4 linked regions of the Homo sapiens genome follow. The protein of the gene in region 2 interacts with the protein of the main gene of each other region in a pairwise test. Each region holds a gene or a part of one and is shown on either strand. Other genes may lie near its edges. The genes, in order: RXRA, CNOT1, THRB and CNOT8.

Region 1 (4,766 bases), on a different chromosome or scaffold from region 2:
TCACCCCCAGCCCTGGCCCCGGGTACAGCTGGGGAAACCGAGGCCCAGCTGGAAATTACTATGGCTTAGAGGGCCAACAGAGGTGCGGGGAGGCCAGGCACGGCCTCTGGGTCACCCCAGAGGTAGGACTGTGACCAAGGGCTTCCCGGCATCCCTCACCCCAGCAGGCAGTGCCTGGAAGAGGAGCTGGGGCTGAAGCCTATCATCAAAGACAGATGTGGGCTGTGCAGGACAGACCCCGTGGCAACTTCTCACACAGAGACCCTGAGAGGCTCTGATCCCCTGAAGGACCCCTGAATGTCCCACTCCCCAGCCCCAAAGTCTGGTCCCCTCCATGGTCTCAGCATCCCTGATCCGGCCCCAAGAGGCCCGGCTGCTCTACTCCCCCTGGACGGCCTGCCCCCTACTTCATCCAGAGCCTGGGGAGTGCAGGGGGGGCCGGAGCCAGGGCCAGGGAAAAGGTGCCTCACCCATACCCGTGCCCGGGAAAGACGACCCCCAGGCCAGCCCAGGGACCTGGCCTAAGCCCCCAGGAAGATGCTAGGAATCCTCCCCCCTTCCCAGGCTGCCATGCTGAGGAGCCCAGCCAGGGCAAGGGTGCAAGGCCATTCACAGGGGCCCCAAGGCCCACCTGAAACCAGTGAGCCACCTGGAGAGAGTCACTTCCTCCTTCCAGGCCTTGCCTGGCTGCCTCCAGACCACCCTCTGCACAGCACTGGTGGCCTCATTCCAGCCATGAGCACCACACTGGGATCCCCCAGTCTCCGGGCACCCATGCACCTACGCCCGGCACACAGGCCCTACCCAGCCTCACCTCACACGTGAACCCCCTCCTGGTTCCAGCCCTGCAACCCCACCCTTGCGTCCTCACCCTCTTCACCCCCTCCAGGCCAGACCTTGCTGTCCCTACCTCTGGGCACCCCTCCCCCACCCCTCCTCCACAGGCAGCAGGACCAGGCCAGCACCCAGCGGGCGCTCCCTAAGCCACGTGTGGACAAGCCCACCAGCAATCCCCGCCTCCCCAGCCAGGGTTGTCAAGGCTCTGCCAGGTCACCCTGGGAAGGCTGCGGCGGACGCCTGCATGCATGGGGTGGGCCGCGTGTGCTGGGTTAGGACCTCAGAAAGAACTGTGCCCCTACCCTGCCCTGCCCTGGGACCCGGGGGTCCAATCTCACTCCGTCCACTCCCCCAGGTACCTCAGGAATTTGCTGCAGACAGTGCTGCCCTGGTGGCATGAGGAGGTGGGCAAGCCACAGTTCCAGGCTGGGCCTCTGCTGCTCACCCAACTACAGCTTTCCACCTGGGAGTGGGGACTTCTCCTAGCCACCACCCCAAGCCAAGGACAACCCTGGAGTGAGGATCAAGGGGTCGCCACTCCTTAGAGGGCCTTCAACCAGCACAAGAGGCCAAGATGCCCAGTCCCAGGGCACAGAGCTGGCATGGTGAGACCTCAGCCCTCCACCAGGGTCCCCACTGAACAAAAACCTCACTCACTCGGGCCAAGACCAGCAATGGGGCTCCTGGGAACCAGCATGGGGCATAGACCCAGCCTGGTCGGTGAGCAGCCTCTGAGGATGCTGAGAGGCAGGAGGACCAGGGGCAGCAGAGCCCCCACCCTGGGGACAGGTCCTCCCAGCTGGAGCTCAAGGCGGCCCCCGCCAGTCAAGTGCCGGAGAAAAAGCAGGCCCCACAGCGGGACACAAAGGCTGGCCCACAGACCTCACCCAGGGTTCAGTGTCCCCATCCACTAAGTGGGCTTGTCTCTGTGACACCTCCACAAGGTCCCAAAAATAAAGTCCCTGGCACGCAGCAGGCACCCGCTGCAGCCATCGGCACCTTCGTGGGGGTAGGGTGAGTCCTGGACAAGTTGGGGAGATTTAGAAAAAAAGGAGGCCAACAAACCCAGCAGGGAGCACCATGATCCTTGGGGGACCCCATGAGGCCTGGCTCACTCACGGGCACGCCAGGACACGGGCCAGCGGCCAACAGCGCCAGGTGAGAGCCTGTGACTCTGTGTGTGTGCAACAGTGAGCGTGCACACACCCAAGCCCTGCACGCGGTCCGCACCCGCTCTCCCCACAGCGGCCGGGCCAATTTTCCTTAGCTGCTTTCTGCTCCATTTCACGCTCATTCAGCTGCTGAGCTAGACAATTGCTTTGTAACTCTAGGGCGCAATTTCCCTGTCTGTGAGGCGCTGGGGCACAACTGCTCAGAACATCTCGCACCAGGCTCGGGTGGGTGTGCAAACCGCGGTCCCTCGCCCCACCTGCCTTCTTGGGACTCTGAGGAGGGTCCCTGGAGTGGCACAGGGGCTGGTCCCAAGGACCCAGCAGCAGCGAGCGCTCTCCTGTGGCAGGCCTATATCCACAGAAAGGGCTACCTCAGTGTCCCCGATGTCCTCTATTCCTGAGTCTGTTCCTCTACACCTGACAGCCCCCAGCGACCATCATGGCCTGTTCTGGTCCAGTGCTGGAAACCTGGCCCCACCTGACCCAGGCAGGAGGCACAGAGAGGACCTAGCCACAGGATAGGGGAAACGCCCCACAAACAGACTCCCCAAACTCCCAGCCAGCCTACAACACACCAGGCTGCCTTCTCCAGCATTTGGAAGAGCCAATGAGTATGTCCATTTTTCAGATGGACAGCCAAAGCCCCAAGAGGCCAAAGAGCAGACCAGGCAGGCAGCGAGGACAGAAGGCCCAACCCCAGGTGGCCTGACCACCCGCCCAGCAATGGGACACCACCTGTCAGAACCTCTTCCTGGGAAGGTGCTGATCCCTGCAAAACCACCACCACCTCCATCCTGCAGGTAACAAAGGCCCTGAATGGGAGGGGGCAGAGGAGAGGAAGGAAGGATGAAAGACAGAGCTGCACCCTATAAAATGGAAACATACAGGCAGGTGGGCAAGGTGCAGGGGGGAGGAGGGTGACCCCTCTACCCACACCATAGCACCCTGAAACTGATCAGCTTAAGAATCTCAGGACAAAGGTCTGGAAGGTGACCCCCAAATGGACACCAGCCCCCAACAGCCACAGGCCAGCCCCCCAGGCCCTTGTGGCCCTAGACCCCAGCCTCATCCCTAGCCCAGCAAATGGCCAATTCCTATGAAAACACACCAGTTAACAGGCCAACCCAAGGCCCTGGCCACCAAAGCCAGCTAAAAAACACAAACTCAAGCCTGGCAGAGAAGGGAAGGAGGGGCAGGTCTTGGCTTGCAAAGCCCGGGTCCCAGGGACAGTGTCCCAGCCCTGAGCCAGCTGGGGGTTGGGGAGGGCCTCTGCCCTGTGTCTGCTGGGACAGCTGTGCCCTCTTCTCCAGAGGACAGGCATTGCTCACCACTCGAGGTCCCAGCCCTGAAACATTTGACCCATGGCAAAACCAAACGTCACCCAAGAAAGGAAACTCCCCAGGCAGCCTCCACTGGCACTGGGTGGACCTGTAAAGCTTTCACCCCGCCCCCACACCACCTTCCATGCAGCTGAGGTCTGTCCCACCCTCTCCTGATGCCAGAGCCCCCTGCCACATGCACGACCAGGCCCCAGGGGCAGAGGGGCACACCCCTGAGTACCCCCTGTTCCCACAGTAATTCCACAGCAAATCCTGCAGGCACCCTTTCCCAGGGGAGGAAACAAAGACCACTGACAGCGACCTCCCACACAGCCACGGGGGAGATGGGGCAGGGGCCAAGAGAGGGCAGTCAGAGGGGCCTCCTGGTGGAGGTGAGCCCCCCACAGGCCCTGAAGGACAGGCACAGCTGGAAGAACCACCAGGTGCTGGCAGAGCCGGGAGCCAGTCACAGCAGCTGCCCGCGTGACCAGGGCTGCCGGCTCAACCTGCACCCCACACCCCAAGGGACTCAGAGCACCCGCCCCCCACCAGCCCTTCCTAGGGGCCCAGCTCGTCCCATCCACATCTGGGCAGAGGGTCACAGCTGCATGCTCGGGTCCAGGCCCAGCAGCCAGCCCTAGGCAAGGTTGGAGGCTAGCAAGCCAGGGCCACCATCGGACTGGGCCATTTTTCTCTCCCTGACACCTCCCCAGTCAACAAACAGGGCCCCTCCAGAGTTTACCAAAACAAACACCCTGCCGTCGGGCAGCGCCCGCGCTAAAAGACGCCCTCGTCAGGCCCGAGCGGGACTCCAAGCCCAGCCTCCTGAGAGTCACATGACCCTGTTATTTCGGGAGGCCCCGGAATGTGCTCTATTTTGGGTCCCAAGGGCTCTGATGTTACCAGAAGCCCCTCACACAGGCTGCAAGCTCACCCAGGCCCCCAAGTGCCCCAACTCCAAGAGTGGTCAGCGGGCCTACAGCTTTGCCACCGGGTCTCTCCACAGGCGCATGGGGTCTGGTGTGGTCTGAGACCTTTGGACTCTGTGGACTCCGCCTGAGTCCCACCATTCAGGATAAGGCCAGCGGGGGCCTTCTCCCCGGCAGGCGTGGGAGCGCGGCCAGCCCCGGGCAGCAGGGCCAGGAAGCTGGGGCTGCCTCTGGCGAGTCCCTCGGCCTTGCTTTCCTTCCAGATCTGGACGCTGCACTCATCCCTGCCCTCACTGAGCGGCTCGGTGGACACCGACTGGGATCCTCTCCCTGCCCACCAAGCCCAGCGGTAGTGAATGCTGGGAGGAGGAAGCCCTCTCTACCCCAGACCCCAAAAGCGGCTGGGCAGCTGTAAGGGGTGGCCGAGTCTCCCCAGCAGCTCCAGGTCTGACCGGTCGGCCAGCCGGGCCAAGACAAGCCAGGCCCTCCACCACCACTCACCCCGAGGA
Region 2 (4,766 bases):
AAAGAGATTTAAAAAGTACATTTGTTGACTTTATTATAAAATTAGCTTAATATCATTAAGTGGTCATTATCTAATTAAACGAATTAAATTGGGAGAGGAGGGAAGGATGTAGCAGGTCCTATTTTTCCCACCCTGAAAGGGAAATTCTGTTGTTATAACAGAGATATACACGAAGTATGTTAAACTATGTCAGTGCCAGTGCCCCACAGCACAGAAATCAACTGAGCAGCCATGCCATATTGTCAGGCCCAAGTCCTATAAACTTAGTCTATATTATAAATGTATGTTTTCAACCTAGCCTGTTCCTAGGTTTATCTGGGGATTCTCAGCTGCTGAGGACTGAGAAAGAAAGAAAAGCTCAATTTATTCTAACCACAACTCCCAATCATTCAACACTCCCATACCCTTCTCCCATCTTCTTCATGTAGATAAAACAGTCCCATTCCCTTGGCAGATCTAGCAGGTCTGGCCATACCCAGATTTGAGGGGTTAACAGGCCATCATAGTATGCAGTTATTTCTGGGACTTCACACAACAAAGGAGATAACCTGGCCTAGCTGGGGTATGAGAGGCAACTGATTAAATCACATTTAGTTAATAATATGCATGAACTGTCAGGATGGAATCTAAGATGGTAACACAAGGCCTAGTCATTACTTCTGCTTGATAATTAGAAGGCTCACCAAAACGTATACAAAGTTTCACCACTACATTATGTGGGAAATTATAGTTTGCGATATACATGGACAAGTACCATTTAAGATAGTATCCTAGCTAACAGAAGCCTTCCTTGACTAATTAGCACACTTACTTGTGGTTGTGATGGGAGGGAGTTCTTCTGGCTGCTTGACATCTTTCTTTGGAGCAGAGAGTTGCTCATCTAAATTCTTCAGGCGATCTTTATCCTTTAGGAGGTTTCCAGGTTTTAGCTCATTGATGTCTAATGCAAGGTTCTTGCAGAGAACCTCGATTTCAAACTTCAAGTTTAACTGCACAGTTCCAGAGTTGGATTAGAATTTTTAAAAGAAAACTTTAGTTTTACTCATAATATACTCTACTTTCAGTTATTATAGTACTTCCCCCGAAATACCCTGCCTTCACTGTAAGTTTTAATAATGTGAAGGCAAAGAATGTTCCAGAGGACAAGGAAGCAGTAAATTACCTTTAAGTCATGCTCCTGATGTAGCTCAGCTAATACATTCATAATTGCCATTGTCCAAGGGTTTGGTGGCCTAAAAACCTAAAGAAAAGCTATTATGTTAAGCTGGCCCAAAATGTGCCCTTTAATTTGGATTATTTAAAACAATTCAATACAACATAAGGGGGTAGGGGGGAGTCAAACAAATAAAAAACAAAAAACAAGGATTAAAAAATAACCAAAAACAGTTAAACATAGTTAAACACTTATACCTCTGTAGCCATAACAAAACCCCTAGCCTTCTCACCTATATCACATTTCAAAAACAAAACAAAACAAAAAACCAAAAACCAAAGCCAACCATTATAATCTTTCTTATTTCACCCAGCCTCTCAAATTGGAAATCCAAGTGCCATAGAGGAAAACAGACTTAACTAGCTTTACCTCACAAGAACTAAGAATATAATCTCTTGACCTCATGCTAAAACAAAGCAATGCTTAGAAATTAGTCATAAATAAAATATTAAAATCTACTCACCACACTACGAATGCTAGATTCTAAGACTTTGGCAACAAAGGGCACTACATAGAGCAATTCTTGTTGTCCTTTAACATAAGCCTCTAGCAGCAATGATTTCACATCCAAGTCCTAGAATAAGAAAAATACTTTCAAAAGCGGGGAATATACCCCCCAAAATGGTATAACAAAACCAAAGAAAAGTATTTTGCCAAGCTTATCCCCAAAACAGGAATCAACATAATGTCTAGTCCTTGCCTTACAAAAAGGGGTTAACAACTCAAAACGTGGGCCAAAATCTTACAAAACCCCAATAATCATTAAATAGCTCCAAACAGCCAATACTTGTAATCATAATGTGCTGAAGATTCTCAATTTTTACACATTTAGATGAAACTCACAGTGTGTAAGATGGGTTTGTTTTTAGCTAATGTGATCATTCCTAGCCAATGTCCCAAGTTCTTCAGCAAAGAACGATCTGAGAAATTGGCTGCAGCTTTATCAGAGGTCAGGAGCACCTGAAATAGTGTAAGATTAAGAAAGATATGAGAATAAGCTTATGAAAGAAAACTCAACTAAGTATTTGAGAATTCCATTATCCTATCCTAAAGACAAGTCATCATTTCTAAGAACAGGCCCCAAAGTAGAATTACTCTGTATATCATTCTCAATATCATTTTGCTGTGTTTATGATTCAACAGTGCTATTTTTACCTTGAAGAAGTCTTTACATTTTATTTTTTCAAAATAGGTACAAACACATTGCACAAAATTCAAAAAGAACACAAAGTTATGTGCCAGCTATCCTCCCCTAGAAAAGTATTTTCAACTCTGAAAACCTTAGCTAGGTTTAAAGCAGAGACCTAACTACAAAGCTATTTTGAAGTGCTAAATTAATTTAAATGAGGATGATAGCCATGCTTAAGTCCTTAAAGGCAGCAAGCATACAAAGGAATATAATCAAATTAGCCTCCTATTGCAATCTTCAGTATACCCAGGTCATTAACAAATCTCTGCAGCCAACCAAGATAACTTTCTGAGATATAGTATAATACTGTTTATATACTTCTTTTCAAATTTCTAAAAAACCCAAACCATTTAACTGATTCTCCGGTTACTGTTTTTCTAAGGGGGGGCAGAACTAACATAGGAGAGTGTTTTGGCTGCAGGTATGCACACATGTATATACCCATCTACTCTGTGGTACCTCTTGACTTAGGGCTATATTTAAACTTCTGTTTAAAAAACATGGTCTTGAAACTTTGCTACAGAGTATGTGGAAACTTTTATGTATCCCAACCACCCTTGCTATCAGATAATAAAAACGAAATAGAGCCATGTTCCTTAACTCTATACAGCAACAGCAGAATGGCACAAGTCAGCTGTGCAACAGAGAGCCAGGAATTCTTTTGCACTACAGCGTAACCAAGAATGGGGAATATTCCCATCCACAGGTTTAAATATAGTGCTGGTTCCTAAGCCAATGACCCAAGTTATTGAGCAAAGAATGACCACAGCTGTATGCTGGTTCTAGAAGTTTTTCCTCCTAAGAAATAAATGATGGTTTAGAAATTAAAATACTTGAATTTTGTTGAATAAGCCTCAGCTCAGTAGAATTTGACCTTAAACTGCACAGACTCCTAGACAACAGCTATTCCACAAACAGATTTAGAGTCTAAAGATATCTTGCACTTGAATACTACAAGATACAAACGAAAACATTCAGGACAGCATTGTTTATAATAGTTTAAGTGATTAACAACACAAATGCCCAGCAGCAATACAAATACATACAATGGTTTTCTACAAGACTATATTTTTCTGTTTTTTAAAAAAGAGGACTGGCCGGGCACAGTGGCTCAGGCCTGTAATCCCAGAACTCTGGGAGGCCGAGGAGGGTGGATCACCTAAGGTCAGGAGTTCGGGACCAGCCTGGCCAATATGATTAAACCCCGTCTCTACTAAAAATATAAAAATTAGCTGGGCATGGCGGTACAACTATAATCCCAGCTACTCGGGAGGCTGAAGTAAGAGAACTGCTTGAACCTGGGAGGTGGAGGCTGCAGTGAGCCGAGATCGTGCCACTGCACTCCAGCCTAAGCAACAGAGTGAGACCACATCTCAAAAAAATTGAAAAAAAAAAAAAAAGGGGGCTACAGCAAAGAGCATTATCATTATCATGAATAATATCCAGGGGAGAAAAAAAAGTAAGTGAAAAAAAAAGAAAAGGATGTACAGAGGGCGACACCATACAGAATATGCTAACCAATACTATGCTGCTTATGTATAACAGTGGTAAAGTTCTAAAATCATGCATGGCATGACAAAAACAATTCATAATAGTGGTTACTTTCAAAGAAAAGGCACAGGGTATGCCTATAAATTTAAGTTCTGCATAAAATTTAGTTCCATATAAGAAACAAAATCTACAGCAATTTCCAGAGGTACCTAATATTGACAATATATATGGAAAAATAGCAAAAATCCTACCTATATAATCAAATATTTCCAAATTCAAAGCAATAATTAAAGGAAATATAAGAACCAACTCTTACTTTAATGTTTCTGTAGGTCTCATTCAGAACCATCTTGTTAAATTCAGGATTCTTCAGCGTGTCAAGGAAGTTTGAATACAGGCTATGAAAGTTTGGCTCAATACTGACTCTCTTCATAACCAGATACTGTGAAACCCAAGGCATAAATTCTTCTTTCACCGTTTCCTTTAGCTCTTCAACCTAGCCGGTCAATACGACATGGGAAGCACAGAATTACACTATGATAAAATAACACTTGGTTTCTATGAACCATACTATACAGCACATGGCTCCTTGCAAAACTAACTAGATGCTAAAGAATGACTTTCCTTCACACCAGATAGATGCTATGAAGAAAAGTATGCTCAATTCCATAGTCAATCACAACTCAACCCATACGTGATTGGGACTGAAACATCTATGGCTATTTTCAGCTTTAAAATTATAAAACATGTAGTACCCCATCTCCACATAAATTACTAATCTATAAGCTGCCATTAACATACCTACAGTGTAACCAAGAATGGGGAAAATTCCAGAACTATGTTTTCCTAAATTTCCATCTACAGGAATCCTTA
Region 3 (5,464 bases), on a different chromosome or scaffold from region 2:
GGTGGAGCATAACTGGCCCAGAAGTCTGGGTGCCTGAGTTCTAGTTCGTGCTCTGTCAACTGGTAGATTTGTAATTCTAGGTCTTGGTTTTCTTACCTGGTGAATAAGTCATGATCTCTAAAACCCTTCCTGCCCTTAATATTGTCTGAATTTCAAGGGGAAAAAAAAAATCTGGTTCCTTTAATTATTTTTTTTTAACACTTAAATTCCTAACTTTATTAGACAAGAAGTATGGCCCACTTAACAGTTAAGGAACGTAAATTTGTTATTGGCTCGAAATAATAATTTGACACAATACTAGTCAACCATTTAGAGGCCTTGGAAAAAGAAGAGGAACAGCACTGAAAATTCCAAGTATGATTGGAAATTATCTGGGAGCGGGGAATTAAATATTCAATGCATGAAAGCAATTGTACTGGCTTCTGGGAAAAAGGAAACAAGAACATTGCTATGGAACTTGTTACCCAGAGAAAGGAAGTGAAAAGATTTACAATTATAAGCACGAAATTCATTGGCAGATTACCTGCTTTATCTACAGACAGATTGTTTTGGGGTTTGGTTTTGTCTAGGCAGCCTCTGGCCAGGCTCCTTAATTGCTTGCTCTGCTAATATTTCAGCTTCCTCTCTTGACTCCTTGAGGAACCAACCGCTCTTTGGAAGACAAACACTTAGCCACCTCTGTGCTCCAGGGTAACCCTGAGAAGCTCTGCTGTCTGGGGCAAGCTTTCTTTCCAAAGGGAATGAGAGGAAGGCAAGCAGGCAGGGTCCTGCAGCGTCAGGCCTTCTGGGGAAAGTTTCCTCATTTTGTTTGACAGGGTCCTCAGTACATCAGACACCCAGATTTGAATATAAGTTCAGAGCCTGATCTCAAGCTAAATCAGAATGCTTTGGGGACTAACCATGATCGAGAATTGGCCAAATAGTATGGCATATAAACAGCCATCCAGCCAGCCGCAAGTAAAGGAACGTTTGATCCTTGGCACCTTAAATGATTGATTGCCTTCAATAGGCAAACTGCTGGTCTGGAAATCTCGTTGAAGGCTGAATACTTCATGCGGAGTAGGACAAGCCTTAGCCCACCTTCAGGTTGAAAGGAAAGGCCATAGGACTCAAAAGATAATGACTCTGAAACTAAACTCCTTCCTTCTGAAGCTGACAGAGGTACTTAGTGCATCTCAAGACTCCATCTCATAAAACTCATTTGTGAGGGATTTGCTCTAGATTTTTCTAAACATTTTTTCATCTATTGTCCAGACTTGCAAATCCAGTGTGGACCTGATGGAGATACCCTTCACACCTGCGCTCCCACCCCCTCGGCAGGGAGACGTCTCAGTAGAGGAGAACACACCCATTATGCTGGGATTTGTATTTATAAATCACTTCCCTTTTAGGGATGAGCGGTGTGGGGCGTGTGTGCGTGTGAGTGTATGCGCGTGCGTGTGTGACCCTCAAGTGTACTTTGCTCAATTTAGACGTGCAGTATTTCCAGAAACAATGAAAAAAGTAAGATGTTTTCTTCTTTATGATTCTGCTCAAAACACCACGTGCCGCCTCAGAGCTTTTTCTAGAGCCTCGGTCCTCAATGACGCGCTTGACCTGTTGATGCCTCAGCCCAGCGAAGCCCCTCACCTGTGCCCCGGGCGACAGCTCTTCAGTGTGCAGTGCAGGCCTGGGGTGGACTGCCAGGCCTTCGCTCTGTGCCAGCAACGCCGTTCTTGTTGCTCCTCCATGAACAGGGGTACAAGCCCTGGCCCCTCCTCGACACTAAGCCCCCCACAGACTCAGCCTCCAAGGAACCGCTGAGCACCCTTGAAGCATGTCATTGTCAGTGATACCTTTTTATTCTATGGAACTCTAACCTATTCGTGTCATATTGACCTTTTGCTGCATGAGTCATAAATTATGAAATCAGTCTTACAGTTTTTGAAATGTAGCCAGCATTTGTAAGGCTAAACCTTTTTCATGAACTGAATTTAAGTGAATAACCAAGCCACAGTTCCTCCTCAAATGGAGAGTGATGATCGACATTTGAATCTCTTTGCCCTTTCCAACGGCTATGGCATCAGGTTCTAAAATAAGCTCGTAATTTTTCCTGTTATTTTAATAATATGGAAATATTAGCATAGTGTTTCTTTTGATAGTGATAGACTATAATCCATATTTAAATTTTATAGAGAAGAAATTTTATTGTACTGTGATGTAGATATTTATTATCCAGGTAAGGATTTGCCCGGTGTGTATTTTTTACAATTGAGACATTTTACTTTAATCTTTAAAAAAAATGCATTAAAAACACACTCAAAAAAAAAAAAAAAAAAAAAAAAAAAAAACCAGACTGGGGGAAAAAAGGTTTGGCCTTATCACAGAATTTTTACTGTGCTGTATAAATGTTTGCAAATGCGAAAAGTGTGCATTTATAGTGTGTTTCCACATTAATTAATGCCGCCTTCAAGAGCAATATTGTGCAGGTAAAACGCTGTTTGTGGCTTTCTGTTGCACAGTTAAAGCTGACCCACCCTATGCACAAGACAATCAAATATAAATCTGTCCTCCTCAGGATGCAGATAATACTCATGTAAATTATGGAGCACAATGTAAGACAAAAGGAGACACTTTACATATGTATTGTTGATACAGAAATTATCAGGGCATGAATGAGCTGATGTGACATTATGCCACTTCTTTCTTTTGGTTCTCCCTTATTAACTTGGCATTTTTAATTTGACCATAGAGCCAAATTAGTTCTCCATGCTTTCTTCGTAGAAAATCCTTTTTTTTCCCATAATGTTTTCATGCCCTGAGAATCAGAAAAATACTACAGAATAGAAAAAGATTTACAGTCATTGGAAGATTTGTGTTTTGCAAACAGTGTTAAGTGATATTGCTAGATGGTGATATTTTTTTCAGCCTAAAACTCTGTTGAAATCTGTGATCAAAATGTTTTAAACTATCCAAAAAAAATTTGTATATTTGGGAAAAATGGATTTTTACATAGCTTTTGTATGCAGATATAAAACTGTAATTATGAATATAGTGGGCGTAGATAAACTCATAAGCTTAAATTCTAAAAAAGAAAAAGCTTATAACAGATATATTTTCCTGTCTCTTTCTTTAAATATTATTATTTTCTACATAGGCAAAGAGTTGCCTGCTCTTCTCACTTCAGCTGCTGCCAAAAGACGGAACCACGGATGTAAGGACATTTATTTCATAAATAAACATCTACTAGAATAAGCAAATTTACTTGAGAAGAAACTATGGAGGGAGAGAAGAAACTAAGTAAAATGCTGATGGGGGGTTACCTCTTTGGAAGGGGCCACAAAGATGAAGGGAGGAGAGAGGTGAAGTTTTGCAGCTCAAGGACAACATTCATCTTCTCATCTCAAATTATTCAGGAATATTACTAATGGAATTATGTTAACATCAGCTGCCAACATATATCTCAATCTCTGTTGCCCTGAACACATGTTAATTGAGATTCTTTCTATGACAAGTAACAAAAAGCTAACTCAAACTGGCTTAAGCAGAAAGCTAATTATTGACTTTAATATCTGGGATCTAGGGTATTGCATACCAAAGCTTCAGGCATGGCTGGATCTGGGTGCACTTACTCAGTATTCTCAGGAAGCTCCTTTTTTTGTCATTCATGTAGACTTAACATTCACATGGCCTTTCACCTTACGGTGGCCTCCAATAGCTCCAGGATGAGCTTTACAGCTCCAAATATAGTGAAAGGAGAATTTCTTTTCTCCAACAATTCTAATGAAAATTCTGGCCTAATTCTCACTGGCCCAAGTTCAGTCATGTGCCCATTCCTGAGCCAATCACTGTGGTGAGGAAAACAGATGCATAACCAACCTTATCCTCAGGAATCCTGGAACTGGGTGAGGGGAAAGAGGGACAGTCAGCTTCATCTAAACTATGGACTGAGAGTTGAGGCAAGATGATTCCTGAAAGAAAATTCTAAGTCTTGCTGCTATAAGTGGAAGAGAATGGTGGGCAAGCAAAAGCAACCAGTGCCCACACCAAAGGTAAATCTAAAACAACATCCCATTTCAGTACAGCAAGCGGTTCTCCTTCACACAGAGGAAGCTCATCTCCAAGTTTTTATTTGGCCAGGACATGAACCAAATAAACACCTTCCAAAGAAAGTGTTTGATCGCATTCTTCCTGGTTCGTGAAAACACCAGTTCAGGTAAGATGGGGCAAGCATCATTATTTCCCTAGGCTAGATCAGTTCAGAGTACTATTTTCTGAGTTTTTCCACTCTATATTCAAATGACTAAGATTAACCTTTATATATTTATCTCTTGTCTACATTATGTACCTCCCAACTTCCTCCTAATGAACATATTTCCCTCCTCCAAGAAATTACTGGATTCATTTATTGTGGAGAGCTGGAACATATATATTCCAGCTAGGTACAATTCTTAACCCCTTTACACAGGCAAAGCCAGAAGCTGTTGTCATGTCACAAACCTGGAAAAGTCTAATAATCTATGAAGAGAAGCCAGAGGACAAAGTTGGTTTGCTTCTCCACCCTCAAGATGACAGCTCACTCTGGTTTTTATGTTTAGACACTCAGGGCACCATAGCTTTGTAAATAAGGGGAATTGTCATCAGGTTTATGTACACAAATTCTGACACATTAAATGGTGTCTAAACCAAAGCAAAACTTAGTAGAACTACTGAAATGCAGAATGTTACAGATACCATTTGAGCATGTATCTCAAGAGAATTCACTGACTACTTGATGAAAAGTGCCATGTTATACTCTTTAAAGACAATCTACCTACACCATACACTGATGAAATCATAAATGAAGTCTGTATCTATACAGTGATATTGCCTGGAGGCTATATTAAAATGAGAAGAGAATTGCCTTAGCCTAGGTTCCCCAGAAAGCAAAGTTCATGCTGCAATTTTATTAGGCATTATAGCACCCAAGGAAGGAGTGGAGGCAAAAGTGAATGAGGCATAGAAGAAAAGAGAATAAATATAAAGTGCTTTGCTAAGTTGGCCACACTTAGTACCAAACAAACACAACTGAGTACTCAATTGTGTAAGACCATCTTCTAAGGGGCCATATGAACTAAAGTGATCTGGTGCAGTGGCTCACGCTTGTAACCCCAGCACTTTGGGAGGCCAAGGCGGGTGGATCACAAGGTCAAGAGTTCGAGACCAGCCTGACCAATATGGTGAAACCCTGTCTCTACTAAAAATACAAGAAAAAATTAGCCAGGCATGGTGGTGCGCACCTGTAATCCCAGCCACACGGGAGGCTGAGGCAGGAGAATAGCTTGAACCCAGGAGGTGGAGGTTGCAGTGAGCCGAGATCATGCCACTGCACTCCAGCCTGGGCGACAGAGCAAGACTCCATCTCCAAAAAAAAAAAATAAAGAAAGAAAGAAAGAATTTATCTACTGGCTCTCACATTATCAAAAATAGGGCTAACTTCCCTCCA
Region 4 (4,766 bases), on a different chromosome or scaffold from region 2:
TATTTTTGCCAACTGTCTGGCTTCGGCAGTCCCCATATATATGCCAGATATGTATAACAGTGGTTAGCTTTTTAAAAACCAATTCTCTTTTAAATGGAAGTTAAAGGCGTCTTTTGGTTGTGTGGGGTTTTTTGTTGTTGTTGCTTTTGCTTTTACGGAAACATCTCTCAAAAACTCAGGAGTGATACACCCACTTCCTCCAAAGTAGTTATGGTTATGTTTGAAATGACACCAAAAATGAAGGGTATTATTTCAGTTAGGGAAATAAGGAAGTACCACCGATTTAACATTATATGGGTATAGAAAATGGTTTTAAGGCCTTTTGCAGGGGAGAAATCTTAAGCAAGTTTAGGAATCTAAAATTCTGAGTCGAAACATTTTCTGAATTATGGTCAGATAGTGTAATTTACTCCACATTCATTCTGAACTTCTCTCTTTTCCTGATCTTTATTGTTCTTTTGCAAGCCTGTAATAGAACAAAAACAAGAGAAGAAATTTATTCTGGCTTTAAGAAGTTTCTACTATGTTTTTTGGGGGAGATGCCACATAGTCTACTTAAGTTTAATTACTGTAATTACAGAGAAAAATCTGTGGAAGTATAGGATACCTTGAATAAATGGAATCTTCAAGGTTTGCTGGCAAACCAACAGTTTGATTTCTCAGAAGTTTCTTAGAGAAATGATGCCAGTTTTGTTTTGCTCCAGATTCTCATTGTTGCATCTGCCAATCTTGAAAATAGGAAGCAAAGATTTTCCTTGCTCTGTCCCTTGGGAACCACTTACATTCGTTTTACTGTTTCTAGGAAATTTTCTTTAAATATATACATTAGAGCCCACTATTGTGTTGTGGATCCATGCAGTGGGCTTGCCTTAGAAGTAAGTGCCTTTATGATAAGCTCTTTTTTGTTTGTTTGTTTGTTTTTGAGACGGAGTCTCGCTCTGTCGCCCAGGCTGGAGTGCGGTGGCGCGATCTTGGCTCACTGCAACCTCTGCCTCCTGGGTTCAAGCGATTCTGCTGCCTCAGCCTCCCGAGTAGCTGGGACTGCAGGCGCGTGCCACCACAGCCAGCCAACGTTTTGTATTTTTAGTAGAGACGGAGTTTCACCGTGTTAGCCAGGATGGTCTCTATCTCCTGACCTTGTGATCCGCCCGCCTCGGCCTTCCAAAGTGCTGAGATTATAGGCGTGAGCCACCATGCCCGGCTTTTTTGTATTTTTATAACCAGGCCTTGTACGTTGTTTGCCATAATAATAACAGCATTCGTCAGAGACCCAATCATGTTGAATTTTTTTCTCACAGAATACTTTCCCCTCCCTGATTTTTCTCCTGGAAAATACACCATGAATCATTCTGTTTCTGGTTGAATGATTTACACCAGCCATCTTTAGTCCTACTGTTGAATTGCTGCATAGTTTCTTTTTAATTTATGTGTTTAAAAGTAAATACTGGCCGGTGGATCACAAGGTCAGGGGTTCAAGACTAGCCTGACCAATATGGTGAAACCCCATCTCTACTAAAATACAAAAAATAGCTGGGCGTGGTGGCGTGCACCTATAGTCCCAGCTACTTGGGTGGCTGAGGCAGGAGAATTGCTTGCACCCAGGAGGCAAAGGTTGCAGTGAGCCAAGAGTGCACCACTGCACTCTAGCCTGGGCGACAGAGCAAGACTCCATCTCAAAAAAAAAAAAGTAAATACTAACTAAAATTCTGATTTGCATTGTGGTTTTTAGGGTTCAGATTAGCAAGTGGGATTGTTTTTTAGCACTTAAATCCCTCACTTCATGCTCTGTTTGCACAAATCTAAAGAGGCACTGGTATGTCTAAAGAGGCACTGGTATTGTTTATTACCTCTAGTTGTATTTGACTTTGGGATTGTAGAGAAAAATAATTTCCTTTTGTGGGATGGGGGAAGAATCCCATGCCAGTATTCATCATATGGGTACAAAGGCTTGAGTGTGAGAGTTTAGGTCCACATTCTTTCAGGTTTTCAGAGATCTCAGGTACATTGAAAATGGCTAAGATGATTCCTGTAGGACTGTTTCCATGATTTGGTCTCTGTGCAAAGTGATGTGAAAGTCATGGATAAGGGCATATTTGTGGTAACGGAATTATTTTGGTCTAGTCTACAGAGAGCTGAAAAACTAGGGTAGTGGTTTCACTTCTGTGGCAGAGGACTGCTGGGCAGAAGTTTCAATAACTTCAGTTTCTTCAAGAAAGAACTGTGTGTGTGTGCGTGTGTGCATGTGTGTGTGTGTGTTGACAAAGTTTCTCCATCATATAAAATGGAGAATAAATATAATCTTAATGTTTTAAACTAATGAAGTGATTGTAAAATATTATTTTGATGTCTTTGTTGTGTTGACATCTTATGTGTGTGTAAACTTACATGATTTTAAAATGTTTTACAATCTAGATCAGACCAAACATTGTCTGGCTTGCACTGTAAAACTAGTTAGCTGAAGACGACTTCTCAGGTTTCTTCAGGATGCCTGCAGCACTTGTGGAGAATAGCCAGGTTATCTGTGAAGTGTGGGCCAGTAATCTAGAAGAAGAGATGAGGAAGATCCGAGAAATCGTGCTCAGTTACAGTTATATTGCCATGGTAAGGAGCTCTACTCTGACTCACCTTCTTTGTCACTTTTAAAGTTGGGGTCTTGCTCTGTTGCCCAGGCTGGAGTGCGGTGGCTATTCACAGATGCAATCATAGCTCACTGCAGCCTTGAACTCCTGGGCTCAAGCAGTCCTCCCACCTCACCTTTCCAGGTTGCTGGGACTGCAGGCTCATACCACTATGCCCAGCTTGACTCACCTTCTTATATGGATGGGTTTAGGGAATGTTTAATTTGAGATTTTGAAAAGAATGGGTATGTTCCACTAAAGCCATTGTAAATTAAACCGGATGGAAGGTTGTGTTGCTTCATGAAATATCAAGGTAGCCAGTGTCTCTGAGAAGGATGTAACCTCTAGTATCTTAGATTTTTTATAACATTATTCTGTTTGAAAGTCTTTAAAGCAGAAGTTACGTCATCCCCTAGGGCCCAGCTGTTCCACAGATATGTTGGATTTGACTATACGATGTTAAGAATTTTAAAAATTTATTGCCAGCATTTAAAAGTCAATAGAACTCACTTGAATTCCAGATTTCTGGCATCTCTGAAAAAAAAAAATAGGAAGATCTGGCAATATCTGTTATCCACTCCTGCCTGACACTGGCTGGAGAGAGAGATGAGTATTGTGGTAATATTAAGGGCCTCCTGTAGACGGGCATGTGCTCTCTGTTTTACTCCAGTCCCGATTACTTGTACTATTTTCATACCTAGCTGACTTTACTCCTTTACATTAGCTGCTTGGAGTTTGTGACTCCTGCTTTAGAAATTATAGAGTTGGCCGGGCGCGGTGGCTCACGCCTGTAATCCCAGCACTTTGGGAGGCCGAGACGGGCGGATCACGAGGTCAGGAGATTGAGACCATCCTGGCTAACACGGTGAAACCCTGCCTCTACTAAAAATACAAAAAATTAGCCGGGCATGGTGGTGGGCGCCTGTAGTCCCAGCTACTCGGGAGGCTGAGGCAGAGAATGCGTGAACCCGGGAGGCAGAGCTTGCAGTGAGCCGAGATCGTGCCACTGCACTCCAGCTTGGGGGACAGAGCGAGACTCCGTCCCAAAAAAAAAAAAGAAATTACAGAGTTAAGTCTTTAGCTTGGTATTCAGAGCTCCTTCCAGTCTTTTCACTCAAGCTAAGCCTGTCTCTTTATATTTTTTTCTGAATGGCTGTTTCACTTCCCTGTATTTGTATTTTTATTCATATATTGTTCTCTACCTAGAATGTTCTTAATTGACTGCATATCTACCTGTAGTTACTCAACTCTTTCTATTGACATTCTGCTTATTTAGGATCAAGTTGTTGTGCAAAGCTTCATGATTTTAGTGCTTCTTCAGTAGATACCAACAAGATCAGTATTTTAAGATAGGATTTTGGCTGGGTGTGTTGGCTGATGCCTGTAATCTGTGCACTTTGGGAGGCCGAGGCAGGTGGATCACTTGAGACCAGCCTGGGCAACATGGTGAAACCCCATCTCTACAAAAAAATACAATAATTAACTGGGTGTGGTGGTGTGCACCTGTAGTTCCAGCTACTTAGGGAGGCTGAGGTGGGAGGATTGATTGCACCTGTGAGGTTGAGGCTGTAGTGAGCTGTGATTGTGCCACTGCCCTCCAGCCTGGGTGACAGAGACAGACCAACCCTATCTCAAAAAAACACAAAAAGAATTTTGTGCCCAAGTTTGGGGCTTGCCACATAACTTTTATAAATGGAGGTAAAATTTTATTTATGAATTACCAATTCAGCATCCACTGTTTTGTGAAACCTTGTGATGAGAGACTTTTTCCTTTTCCAGGACACAGAATTTCCAGGTGTTGTGGTGCGACCAATTGGTGAATTTCGTAGTTCCATAGATTACCAATATCAGCTTCTGCGGTGCAATGTTGACCTTTTAAAAATTATCCAGCTGGGCCTTACATTCACAAATGAGAAGGGAGAGTATCCTTCTGGAATCAATACTTGGCAGTTCAATTTCAAATTTAACCTTACGTAAGTGATTTCTAAATAAATGCGTTAATTTTAAGTTTTGTTTTCACTGAATCCAGGTGGGTGTTGGATAGAGCGGTCAAGCAGAGGACGGAACAGGGAATCTCAGCAAGTGAAGTCCTGCTTAAAGAACTGCAGCAGCTCAACAATGAAAAGATAAACAACCCAACTAAAAATG

What was found.
Region 1: the proteins of CNOT1 (region 2) and RXRA interact in a two-hybrid assay, tested with the Homo sapiens proteins (one study listed by BioGRID and IntAct).
Region 3: the proteins of CNOT1 (region 2) and THRB interact in a two-hybrid assay, tested with the Homo sapiens proteins (one study listed by IntAct).
Region 4: the proteins of CNOT1 (region 2) and CNOT8 interact in binary tests that used the Homo sapiens proteins (3 or more experiments, as listed by UniProt).

Annotation. Positions count from the first base shown.
Region 1 is NC_000009.12:134,328,692-134,333,457, reverse strand, and holds part of RXRA (retinoic acid receptor RXR-alpha), read right to left. Parts: intron 1-4,766. UniProt on the Homo sapiens protein: Receptor for retinoic acid that acts as a transcription factor.
Region 2 is NC_000016.10:58,545,510-58,550,275, forward strand, and holds part of CNOT1 (CCR4-NOT transcription complex subunit 1), read right to left. Parts: intron 4,390-4,766; coding exon 4,210-4,389; intron 3,125-4,209; exon of another isoform or gene 2,990-3,124; intron 2,174-2,989; coding exon 2,057-2,173; intron 1,788-2,056; coding exon 1,677-1,787; intron 1,241-1,676; coding exon 1,163-1,240; intron 990-1,162; coding exon 812-989; intron 1-811.
Region 3 is NC_000003.12:24,115,840-24,121,303, reverse strand, and holds the end of THRB (thyroid hormone receptor beta), read left to right. Parts: 3' UTR 1-4,151; downstream 4,152-5,464.
Region 4 is NC_000005.10:154,860,795-154,865,560, forward strand, and holds part of CNOT8 (CCR4-NOT transcription complex subunit 8), read left to right. Parts: exon of another isoform or gene 1-875; intron 876-2,412; 5' UTR 2,413-2,484; coding exon 2,485-2,601; intron 2,602-4,397; coding exon 4,398-4,591; intron 4,592-4,766. UniProt on the Homo sapiens protein: Has 3'-5' poly(A) exoribonuclease activity for synthetic poly(A) RNA substrate. Its function seems to be partially redundant with that of CNOT7.